Linked DNA regions of Homo sapiens. The protein of the gene in region 2 purifies or fractionates together with the protein of the main gene of each other region. This does not show direct contact. Each region holds a gene or a part of one and is shown on either strand. Other genes may lie near its edges.

What was found.
Region 1: the proteins of RAB40B (region 2) and ARHGAP29 purify together in Homo sapiens (affinity purification with mass spectrometry, with the first as the bait; one study listed by BioGRID). This does not show direct contact.
Region 3: the proteins of RAB40B (region 2) and ARHGEF26 purify together in Homo sapiens (affinity purification with mass spectrometry, with the first as the bait; one study listed by BioGRID). This does not show direct contact.

Annotation. Positions count from the first base shown.
Region 1 is NC_000001.11:94,174,882-94,178,613, forward strand, and holds part of ARHGAP29 (rho GTPase-activating protein 29), read right to left. Parts: intron 3,287-3,732; coding exon 2,971-3,286; intron 2,840-2,970; coding exon 2,731-2,839; intron 1-2,730. UniProt on the Homo sapiens protein: GTPase activator for the Rho-type GTPases by converting them to an inactive GDP-bound state. Has strong activity toward RHOA, and weaker activity toward RAC1 and CDC42. May act as a specific effector of RAP2A to regulate Rho.
Region 2 is NC_000017.11:82,654,377-82,657,721, forward strand, and holds the end of RAB40B (ras-related protein Rab-40B), read right to left. Parts: 3' UTR 597-3,345; downstream 1-596. UniProt on the Homo sapiens protein: RAB40B small GTPase acts as substrate-recognition components of the ECS(RAB40B) E3 ubiquitin ligase complex which mediates the ubiquitination of target proteins.
Region 3 is NC_000003.12:154,236,390-154,239,889, reverse strand, and holds part of ARHGEF26 (rho guanine nucleotide exchange factor 26), read right to left. Parts: intron 1-3,500. UniProt on the Homo sapiens protein: Activates RhoG GTPase by promoting the exchange of GDP by GTP. Required for the formation of membrane ruffles during macropinocytosis. Required for the formation of cup-like structures during trans-endothelial migration of leukocytes.

The DNA.
Region 1 (3,732 bases), on a different chromosome or scaffold from region 2:
CTATGTGGAGGAGTTAAACATTTGCACAGTATTAAAGGTGTATATTGAATTTAAAAGTTCAAATTTTTTACTCATTTAAATCAACATGAACAGCTACAAAACACAAAAAAAACACTTGCTGAGTAACTTCTTTTTAAGTGCTGTGCATGAACAAGTACTTTCTGGGTCAAAAGACTATCACAATTTCAATAGGCAGACATTGGAAAATTAACCTCAGAAAAGTGACACTAATTTACACACCAACCAGATGTAAGTGTGCCCTGAATCCCAAGGATTTTGCCAACTCACTCAATCTGCTTTTCAGTTACACTCAACCCAGTGAGAGCATATGATATTAGATGCCTTAGATGCTCTCCATATCTGATCAACTAATAAAGCATAAAATCCATTCTGTCAAATGAAGGCTGAATGCTTTTAAGTTAAAAAGTGCCATTTTCCCCACCTGCTCCCGGATTTTCTTTCTATAGTCCGAACCCACAGTCCATGTTTTCTCACTTAGAAGCCTCAGTTCCTGCATCTATCCTAAAAAATTCCAATTCCAGGAATGTTCCAGCCCTCCATTCTCCTGCTTTTCTGTTCACTGCTGAAACACATCCACCAACTCTGTGCCTTGACGCCATCCTGACTTTAAGCTACAGTCGGCCCCAAGCACAGCATGCAATCCTTTCTCTGCCACCCAGTCCTTCACCCACATCTCTTAGGCAGTGGTTTGCAGACAGGTGCCCACCAGAGTCACTTTTTGGTCATCGTCTCATCTGAACTTCTTCCACACCTGGGACTGCTGGCCTCTCTTCCCTGGGTTCCAAGGCTCTTTTATTGTTTTGTTTTGTTTTTGTTTTTTGAGACAGAGTCTCACTCTGTCACCCAGGCTGGAGTGCAGTGGCATTATCTTGGCTCACTGCAACCTCTGCCTCCTGGGTTCAGGTGATTCTCTTGCCTCACCCTCCTGAGTAGCTGAGATTACAGGTGCCTGCTACCATGCCCAGATAATTTTTGTATTTTTAATAGAGACAGGGTTTCACCATGTTGGCCAGGCTGGTCCTGAACTCCTGGCTTCAAGATCCGCACACCTCAGACTCCCAAAGTGCCAGGATTACAGGTGTGAGCCACCACACCTGGCCCAAGGCTCTTTTGATTTGCTTTCCCAGGTCCTCCACACATTTATAGAGCATTCTAAGGGACCTGGTTCCTTGCAATTGGACTCTAGGCACCAACATATATTCTTAAATTTCTGAGGGAAAAACTTAGAGCATAATGGAGAAGAGCACAGACTCTGAAGCACAGTTGCCTGGGTCCTGGCTCAGCCCTGCCTGCCACTTCTGCACTGGGCTAGGCAATATCACTGTCCTATGTGTCTTCATCTGCGAAATAAGACTCCTATGTGTATCTATGTTGCTGTGTGATCTAAATGATCTACTAGGAAAAGTGCTTAAAATTATCTTGTATGTAATAAACACTGGAAAGTGACATTTATTATTATTACTGTTCCTAAGAGCTTCATGGGATAGCCACAAAGGTTAGGTTTAGTAATCAGAACTGGGTTCAAATGTATTAAGAGAACAACCTTTGGCATTACTTAGTCTCTTTCAGACGGTTAGTTATGGGTTGAATGAGGATAATGCTATTTACTTTATAGCACAGAACTATTATGAAGATCAAATAGAATCAAACAAATAAGCACAGTGCTTAGCACAGAACAGGCAGGTACCTGGTGAATGTTAGTTCCATTCCTTTTTTTTTTCTTTGAGATGGAGTTTCTCTTGTCACCCTGGCTGGAGTGCAATGGCACGTTCTCGCCTCACTGCAACCTCTGCTTCTCGGGTTCAAGTGATTCTCCTGCCTTAGCCTCCCGAGTAGCTGGGATTACAGGCGCCCACCACCACACCTGGCTAATTTTTTGTACTTTTAGTAGGCGGGGTTTCACCATGTTGGCCAAGCTGGTCTCAAACTCCTGACCTCAGGTGATCTGCCCGCCTTGGCCTCTCAAAGTGCTGGGATTACAGGCGTGAGCCACCATGCCCGGCCCTCCTTTCCTTTTTAGACCCTATGATCACTGATACTTGATTACACATTAAATTTAACATATATGGCTGCAATGTAAAAAACTGGAATTTAGCTATAACAATGTAGAAATGACAATACAAATGGAAGCTTTTCCACCAGCTTAACAACTAGCAATGACAGCAACTAATATTATAAAGAGAAAATAAGTGAATAAAATGATCGCAGTCAAGGAAAGAAAAAAGACATACACATCTCTGTGTTTAATAGGTTAAATGTAGGCCACAGGTAAAAAGCATGTCAAAAAAAAAGTAGGACTCTAAAGTTTTTGAATTTCAGGAGTCTAGTTGACTCTGTATGAGCAGTTAGCTCAATGCACTGAACTACGGAACTGGAAGATACTAACGAATATCACATTGCTCAACACATTTCTACCTTGATTTTAGCTGATGGCAAAACTCAAAAACAAAAACAAAATTCAGAAGGAACACAAAAAACATTATAAACTCCAAGATGTCTTATTATAAGAAAGACTTTTATGAAGAATGACATTCATTTAAATGCAAGATACACTAAAAGGCAACTTTCTCAATGGCTAGCCAAGATTTGTTAACTAATAAAGCTTCATTCTCTGGCTTCCCTCATTGCCCCTCACCTTGGTTTTAATCACGGTTCTACTGGTAAAATTTTAAGCCAGCAAACATATTTTTTTTTTACATGGCTACTCACCACTGAGACATGCATCACATTTTCCTAACGCATTTTGCTTGCGTTCTGATTCCTCAAATGATGTAGCTCGTTCAAAAATTTTGCTTTCACTCTCTGAAGTATGGATATCCTGTTGATGCAAGATAATTTTTAAAATGGAAGAAGTAAAACATAACCTCAAAATAAACAGTTCAAAGATCTTTAACTTATTAACATAAATATTACAAAGTTCTAATATAATTCTATAAAGGTCAAACTCACTTCCTTTGAAGAAAAAAATAGTGACTTCATGGAACGTTCAATGTCTCTTTCTTCTGGTGATAACAGAGGCTTTGGAAAACAGCCTTGATCAACAACACCTATGCTACACATAACATCTTGTGGTTGTAGGGACCCATCGAAGATCTTCTGTGAGTAAGTAATGAGAAACTCTACCAAGCGTGCTTGATTTGAATACTCTGCAAGGGAGGAGATGGTGATAGGAGCAGTTGTGGGCCTTGGCCTAATGAGACTTGGTCCAAATATCACCCCCAAGTTTTTGGAGTTCATCTTGTTTTCTTCTGCATGATCTACTACCCTGCAAAGTAGAACACATAAAGTTGTATGAGATTTTCCTATTAGAGTTCCTTGACTGTAGTTTACTATGGAATAGAGAGGGTGGAGGGAAAATGAGCTGCACAAAAATACTAGGGGGAAAAAGTCTAGGAAAAGGTTATATTTATTTGATTAAAATATTGACCACATGCCAAATAGAGTTTCACAGTTTCACAGTATTGGAATAAATTTCAAGTTAAGTAGAAGGAACTACTATAGTTTTACCAGCAGAAAGAAAAAATACCCCTAAAAACTGCTCCCATCTCAGTATATGGTATATCCTCCCAAGTCCTTATACTGGGAACTTAAACATCATTGTCAGGTGTCTCACTACCCATCTCCAAGTCTAGATGATTCTCCCTTCTGAAGATCTCAGTTCCAACACCATTCCCACTCCTCTGGCCTCACTTCAAGCTCTTACCACCTTTT
Region 2 (3,345 bases):
AAGAGGGTGAAGGCTGGAGCAACAGAACTGCTTTGGGACTAGGTGGAGTTTGGAATCCCTCTCCACAGTGGCTCAGGGCCTCTGTGCTCCAGCGGGGTTTGCTGTCATCATGGGAATGTAGAGGAGAAAAACCAGTATCAGCTCGAGTTCAGCACTGCGGCAGGGTAGGGACAGTGGTTTTATTTTTATTTGAGATGGAGCCTCACTCTGTCACTCAGGCTGGAGTGCAGTGGTGCAATCTCAGCTGACTGCAACCTCCACCTCCCAGGTCCAAGCAATTTTCATGCCTCAGCCTCCTTAGTAGCTGGGACTATAGACGTGCACCACCATGCCCGGCTAGTGGTTTGTATTTTTAGTAGAGACGGGGTTTCATCATGTTGCCCAGGCTGGTCTTGAACTCCTAAGCTCAGGCAATCCGCCTGCCTCAGCCTCCCAAAGTGTTAGGATTACAGACATGAGCCACCGCGCCCTGCCAGGACAGTGGTTTTAAAAGGCAGGTGCCAGCCTTTCTTAAGAGAAGAAAGTGTGTAAGAATCTGTAGATCTAAAGCAACAGGCCACACCTCTGAACATGACAAGAAAATGACAAAGTTTCTCTAAGGTTTAATTTATATTTATGTTTTTTGTATATTCACCACCCAAACACACAGTCTTCTACTTAGTCCGGTCTGTATTAGGTTTCGTCTGTTTTTGTTCTGCCTTGGTTTGCTGTAGCACTTTCTGCCGTGAGCGTAACTCACTTCCTTGTAGGAGTTTCCTGAGGCTGCCGTAACAATCGCCACAAACCTGGTGACTTAAATAACAAATATTTATTTTCTCGTAGCTCTGGAAGCCGGAAGTCCAAAACCAATAACTTGGCAGGGCTGTGCTCCCTCTGGGAGATCTCGGGGAGCCTCCTTGCTACATGTTCCGCTTCTGGGGACTTCTGGTGGTGTTTCCCTGGAGGGCCAAGGCCTCCGGGCGGCCCGTGCATTCGGTGAACACCTCCAAAGAGCTCTGAGTCACAAAGCCTTGGGAAACTTTATTTTATTCTTTCTAGGACATTATCAGTAGTCCCGAGGAGACATCAATTACAAAACAAGAAAAAGGAAGGAAGAGAAAAATACAGGTTTGGCCTGGTTTAATGTTGCAATGGGAGGATCCATTTCCTTACCCTTCACCATCAGCGAGCTGGGAACGGAGGGAGAAGAGGCCCCTCAACGTGGGTTTCTTCAACGTGGACTCTCCTTTCTGTGCATCTCAGTGTCCTTGTGTTTGCAGCTGGGAGGTCGGCCCTGTCGTTCTCACCCCACCTGTGGCACAGCAGAGAGAAGGGTGCACAGGTCTTTGCAGCGTGCCTGCACGAGGCTGGCCACCCTCTCCAGACACTGTCCCCTCAGGGTTCACCTTCTGCCCACAGACCACACCCCTGCCTCCCCGTGGACTTTGTCCCCGTGGCTGCCGTGCCCAGGTGGCCAGACACCCCCAAGCCTGGGTCCACCCGCAGGGACCAGTGCTCCTCTCTCCTGTCTGGGCCTCGGTTCCACCATCTCTGAATACAGGCTTTGCCCCTGATTCTAGGGTCCCTTAAATTTCTTTTTTTTTTTTTTTTTTAGATGGAGTTTCACTTGTCGCCCAGGCTGGGGTGCAGTGGTACGATCTCGGCTCACTGCAACCCCTGCCTCCCAGGTTCAAGTGATTCTCCTGCTTCAGCCTCCTGAGTAGCTGGGATTACAGGTGTGCGCTGCCATGCCAAGCCAATTTTTGTAATTTTATTAGAGACGGGGTTTCATCACGTTGGCCAGACTGGTCTTGAACTCCTGACCTCTGATCCGGCTGCCTCGGCCTCCTGAAGTGCTGGGATTACAGGTGTGAGCCATCACACCCAGCTGGGTCCCTTAAGTTTCTAAGAATCTACAGATCATCAGCAGGAACTAGGAACATCTGGGTATTTTCTCGCTTCGTTTTTTTGGTTTAGTCCCTCATTTGCGACCCCCAGCCACAGAGAAACGTTCAACAGTGTGACCAGGGAAGAGAGCGGCCCTGGAGGTCTTTGCGGTCAGCCCTGCTCTGAGGCAGTCGGGGTCAGGGGCTACATCTTCATGCGGAATTCCTGACAGCCCCTCGGAGCTCCTCACCGAGGCTCAGGAGCACGGCTCTGATTTCTCAGACAGGCACATGCCTGGGTGCCAGCTTTTAACTCTCCGCTCTCTCCTCCTCTGCACTTCTGTTCCGGAAAAGGAATCCTTTCTCAACAGGCGACAACAGTTCAAGGATTCAGCCTTGTTGCCAGTGTCGTGTATTAGCTCCGATATGTGATGTCTACACCAGGCAGTGGCGCAGTGAAGTAAAGGGCTATAAGAAATACACAAAATCTGGCCGGGCGCAGTGGCTCACGCCTGTAATCCCAGCACTTTGGGAGGCCAAGGTGGGTGGATCACCTGAGGTTAGGAGTTCAACACCAGCCTGACCAACATGGTGAAACCCCATCTCTACTAAAAATACAAAAATTAGCCGGGCGTGGTGGTGCACCTCTGTAATCCCAGCTACTCGGGAGGCTGAGGCAGGAGAATCGCTTGAACCCGGGAGGCGGAGGTTGTGGTGAGCCCAGATCGTGCCATTGTACTCCACCCTGGGCAACAAGAGCGAAACTCTGTCTCAAAAATAAATAAATAAATAAATACAAAATTCGAAAGAACCGGTCGCCAACTCTACCAAGAGAGAAACAACTATACATTTTATTGTTGAGAAACATTTTCCTAAATAAGTGTTTTCACTTCATTCTTTACTGAAACAGCTCTTCCTTGACATGTCGAAACTGTGCTGGCTGTGTTCAACATAACTAGAGGTATCTTTGGCATTTTCTTCCCTTAGCTTCATAACTTGTAGAATATCTTGTACAAAAAACTGTAGATTTACAGAAAAATATGCATATAAATCACTTATTAATCCCAAAATGTAGTAAATAACTAGCAAAAACTTTATCAAATCCATTTCATACACAAACTGGACAGATCAGTTGCACATAACCTCTACATCTGCAGCGTTTTATAAATTGGCGCTTTGACATTGAAAAGGAGGTTTACAAAAAGACCCCTCTCGTAATATCAGTGACTCTAAATTATCCCGCTGCCATTGCTTCTCAAATTCCATTGAATTTATACTAATCACTCCAATATCACCGTTCTTACAAAAGCAGTTATTTTAAGGAAAAAGTTGCAGTGCAATCATGATAAAGTAACATTCAGAATTTCATGTTACCAAGAGTCGAGCAGAGTACTAATTTTCCCTTTACAAACACACATCGAAAACAAGAGCTTCATGCACATCCACGTAGAAATTCGAAGTCCGACGGGGTAGTGTGTTT
Region 3 (3,500 bases), on a different chromosome or scaffold from region 2:
AACCCATCCTTGTGTCCCACACTCAGAGCCTCACCACCTGTTTCACAAACCACCAGGACTAATCTCATTATGCCCTCCATTCCTGCTTAGGCTCAGGAACCCCAATATCCTTCTTTCTCCTGCACTCCCATTCCCATCGCACTGTGAACATGCCCAATCTGGCCCCACTTTTTTCCACTCCTCAGCTGGTTCCTGAACCCCTTCCACTGTACCCTCTGGGAATGCAATTCCCTCATTTAAGAAACTAGTAAAGTCTTCTAAATACTTGGCCTCGTCTCTGAACCCTCCCTTCACATTCTTGCCTTAAAAGAAACCTGGCTCTCCCTAGAGAACAAGGCGTCTCCTGAGAGCTCTCTGCCTGCTTGCTTTTTATTCCTGCTTCTATACAATGATCACTTCCTCCTCCTGAAACATCATCAGCTTTGAAGCTCATGGCATCAGTCTCTAACTCATAACTACAGTCATCTATAGACCCCTGGATCGTTTCCGATCCTCTCCCTTGAGTTTCACTGCTGGCTCTCTGTCTCTCTCCAACAATACTTCTTCATACACACACACACACACACACACACACACACACACACACACACTCTCTCTCTCTCTCTCTCTCTCTCTCTCTCTCTCTCTCCCTCTCTCTCTCGGTCATTTACATCAAGTCCCCAACACTACTTCTTTCTTGAAGTCTCCTGTAAAGGATCTTTCCATTACCCTGTACCCTCAATTCCCCGACTTTACTCTCCTCCGATGATCTTGTTTTCTGCCCTACTTCAGCCACAAATCCATGGTTATACCTTAGTCCTTGTCATTACCATCAACTACAAACTCTCTGTAATCCCAGTGTCAAACATACCACTCTCTAACCAGCATGGCCTTTCTTTCCAACTCACCTCCTCTAATCCTCAACACCAACCATTATTTAACTCACCAGTTCTTACAACCCATTGACTCTACAACCTTCCGCCTCCCCCCCTTAATTCCCTCATGTCCTCTTGTTCATGCATATTAAATTAGCTAGCTTGCATTTCTTGGTACCCAGTTAAATCACATCTTGCATACACATTCATCTCCTTGATTGTATTTGCCTGGCAAATCCCGAACCTGGTGACATACAGCTTTTCCTCTACTCTGCACCTGCACCCTTGCGAGTGAACATGAGAGTGCTCAATAAATAACTGTCACATAAGTGGATGAATATGCAATAAATTCTAATATACGCTAGGAATATCGAATAATTACCTCATTTAATAATAAATGCAAATGAATGATGTCAGGGGAGCTTAGAGAAAAGAAAACTCCTTGTGCCTAGTCCAGTACACTAGGAGGAATTTCAGAACAGGCCACTTTGCTCAAGATTTCCTGGAATTTATTTTCCTCAGAATGGACATCTACCTGTCAACCACTCTTTTGTCATGCTCCTTGAAAAACTTTATAATCTTTTCTAAAATTTGGTTTGATAGATTCTGCCCTCAAAAAACAGCAAATGCAGTTATCTATAAAAGCAAAATATTGCCTTCTGATCAAGCCTAATTGTTCCTAGGATAGTAATCTGTATTAATTAAAAGATTGTGTGGCACGATTATCTCCAAAGTTCTCCTGAGACTGCCTACAGACCAGCACACCCACACTTGGATATGTCAAATATTTCTCACATCCAAAATGAGACTTATCAAAGTAGACATGATGTTTATAAAAAGAGGAAGGTGAATAATACGCTTTACAAACAAATACGGTCATTTTTTAAAAGACTATGTTTACTAGAAACAAAGCAGTCAATTTTTAGCAACACAGAACAAGTTTATCATGTTGTATAGATACTATATCAGACATGCATTGAACAGCATAGGACTCAGGATAAAAACCAAAACCAGGATAAAACAGCAAACATAACAAAACCTCAACAACAACAGCATCAAAAACAAGAGAAAAAGAGGATGAACTGAGGCTTCTTTGTTACTATTTTCTCTCTGCCCCTTATGATTACTCTTTTGGTCCAATTTACAAGTTAAAAAACCTGTTAGTCAAAGGCACCTGTTTCTGTTTAAAAACAATTCTGCTTCAGAAAGAGAAATGGAAGCAACCTAATATTGTGAACATGGGGTAAGGCCCTAAACAATGACATGTGTGTAGGCGTTGTAGGTATTTCCAAAGAAATAAAAGTCAAAGAAATGAATATGCTATAAAGTCATCATTTGAGATGACTCAAATTCGAAAATGTTGTCAACATAAAGTGGTTTCACCTATCAAGTCATCCCAATAGAATTCAAAACCAAGGGTTCACAGAAAATGAATATAAGCTAATATGAATAAACTAGTTAAGTGTGTGTGTGTGTGTGTGTGTGTGTGTGTGTGTGACGGAGTCTCACTCTGTCACCCAGGCTGGAGTGCAGTGGTGCACTCTCAGCTCACTGCAACCTCCGCCTGCCAGGTTTAAGTGATTCTCCTGCCTCAGCCTCCCGTGTAGCTGGGATTACAGGCATGCACCACCATGCCTGGTTAATTTTTGTATTTTTAGTAGAGACAGGGTTTCACCATGTTGGCCATGCTGGTCTGGAACTCTTGACCTCAAGTAATCGGCCTCCCAAAGTGCTGGGATTACAGGCCTGATCCACCACACCCAGCCAGCTTCTTTTTCAATTTTCAGTCATAAATGCTTTAATTTCTTGTCTTTGGGGGATAAAGACAGAAGTAGATACTTTTTTAAAATGTTTATTAATTGTTCTCTTAAGCAATGACAACTACAATGCCACTGATTAAGACCCAGGATGGCTGCTGGGCTCAGTTTATGCCTGTAGTCCTCTCAAATGTCCAGTTTGAATGATAAACTGTGGCTGCCCTAATCACAGCTATATGATTTCACCTCAAGTGTTTATTTCCACACATCTGCATAGTTGTGTCATTGAATATGCCTGAACAAGGAACTTGGCCCACTGGACTTCTGGGTCCAAAACAAAATGCAGGAAACATGTTGGCCTTTTTGTTTGTTTTTAAAGTAATTTACTATCACCCAATATCCAATATCATTACTTCGTCTAGGCCAGTAAACTTCTGCATTATGCAATAAATAATGTAGGTCTTTACACCTTCCTTACTGCTCTTTTAGGAAATCTACTATAAAAAGAAACAATTCCATTTAACAGTAGTGCTTCAGTAGAAAGAGGAGCAGAAACTCTATAGCCAGGTGCAGCTGTTTAAAGCCCGTTTCCCATCTCTGCTTATTTACCCCATGTCCAATAAGTATGGAGCAGGCTAAACAGGGTTGGGAAAGAAACCCCCTTCCTGAGGGAAGCTGATGCTAATCAGACTTCCCCATGTTTGTCTCTATCGTTTAACAAACATATGGTTTATATAGTCTCTGAAACAATTTGGAACATGTAATGAGGAAGTTAAAGTGCTCAGAAAAGGGCAAATGGAAAAACCATCTTTCCTTGCATGGAGAAGTTTATATGGAGACTTCCTTTGATTGTCTTATATGTGCTCCAAGTTTACCAGCTGCTCATCAA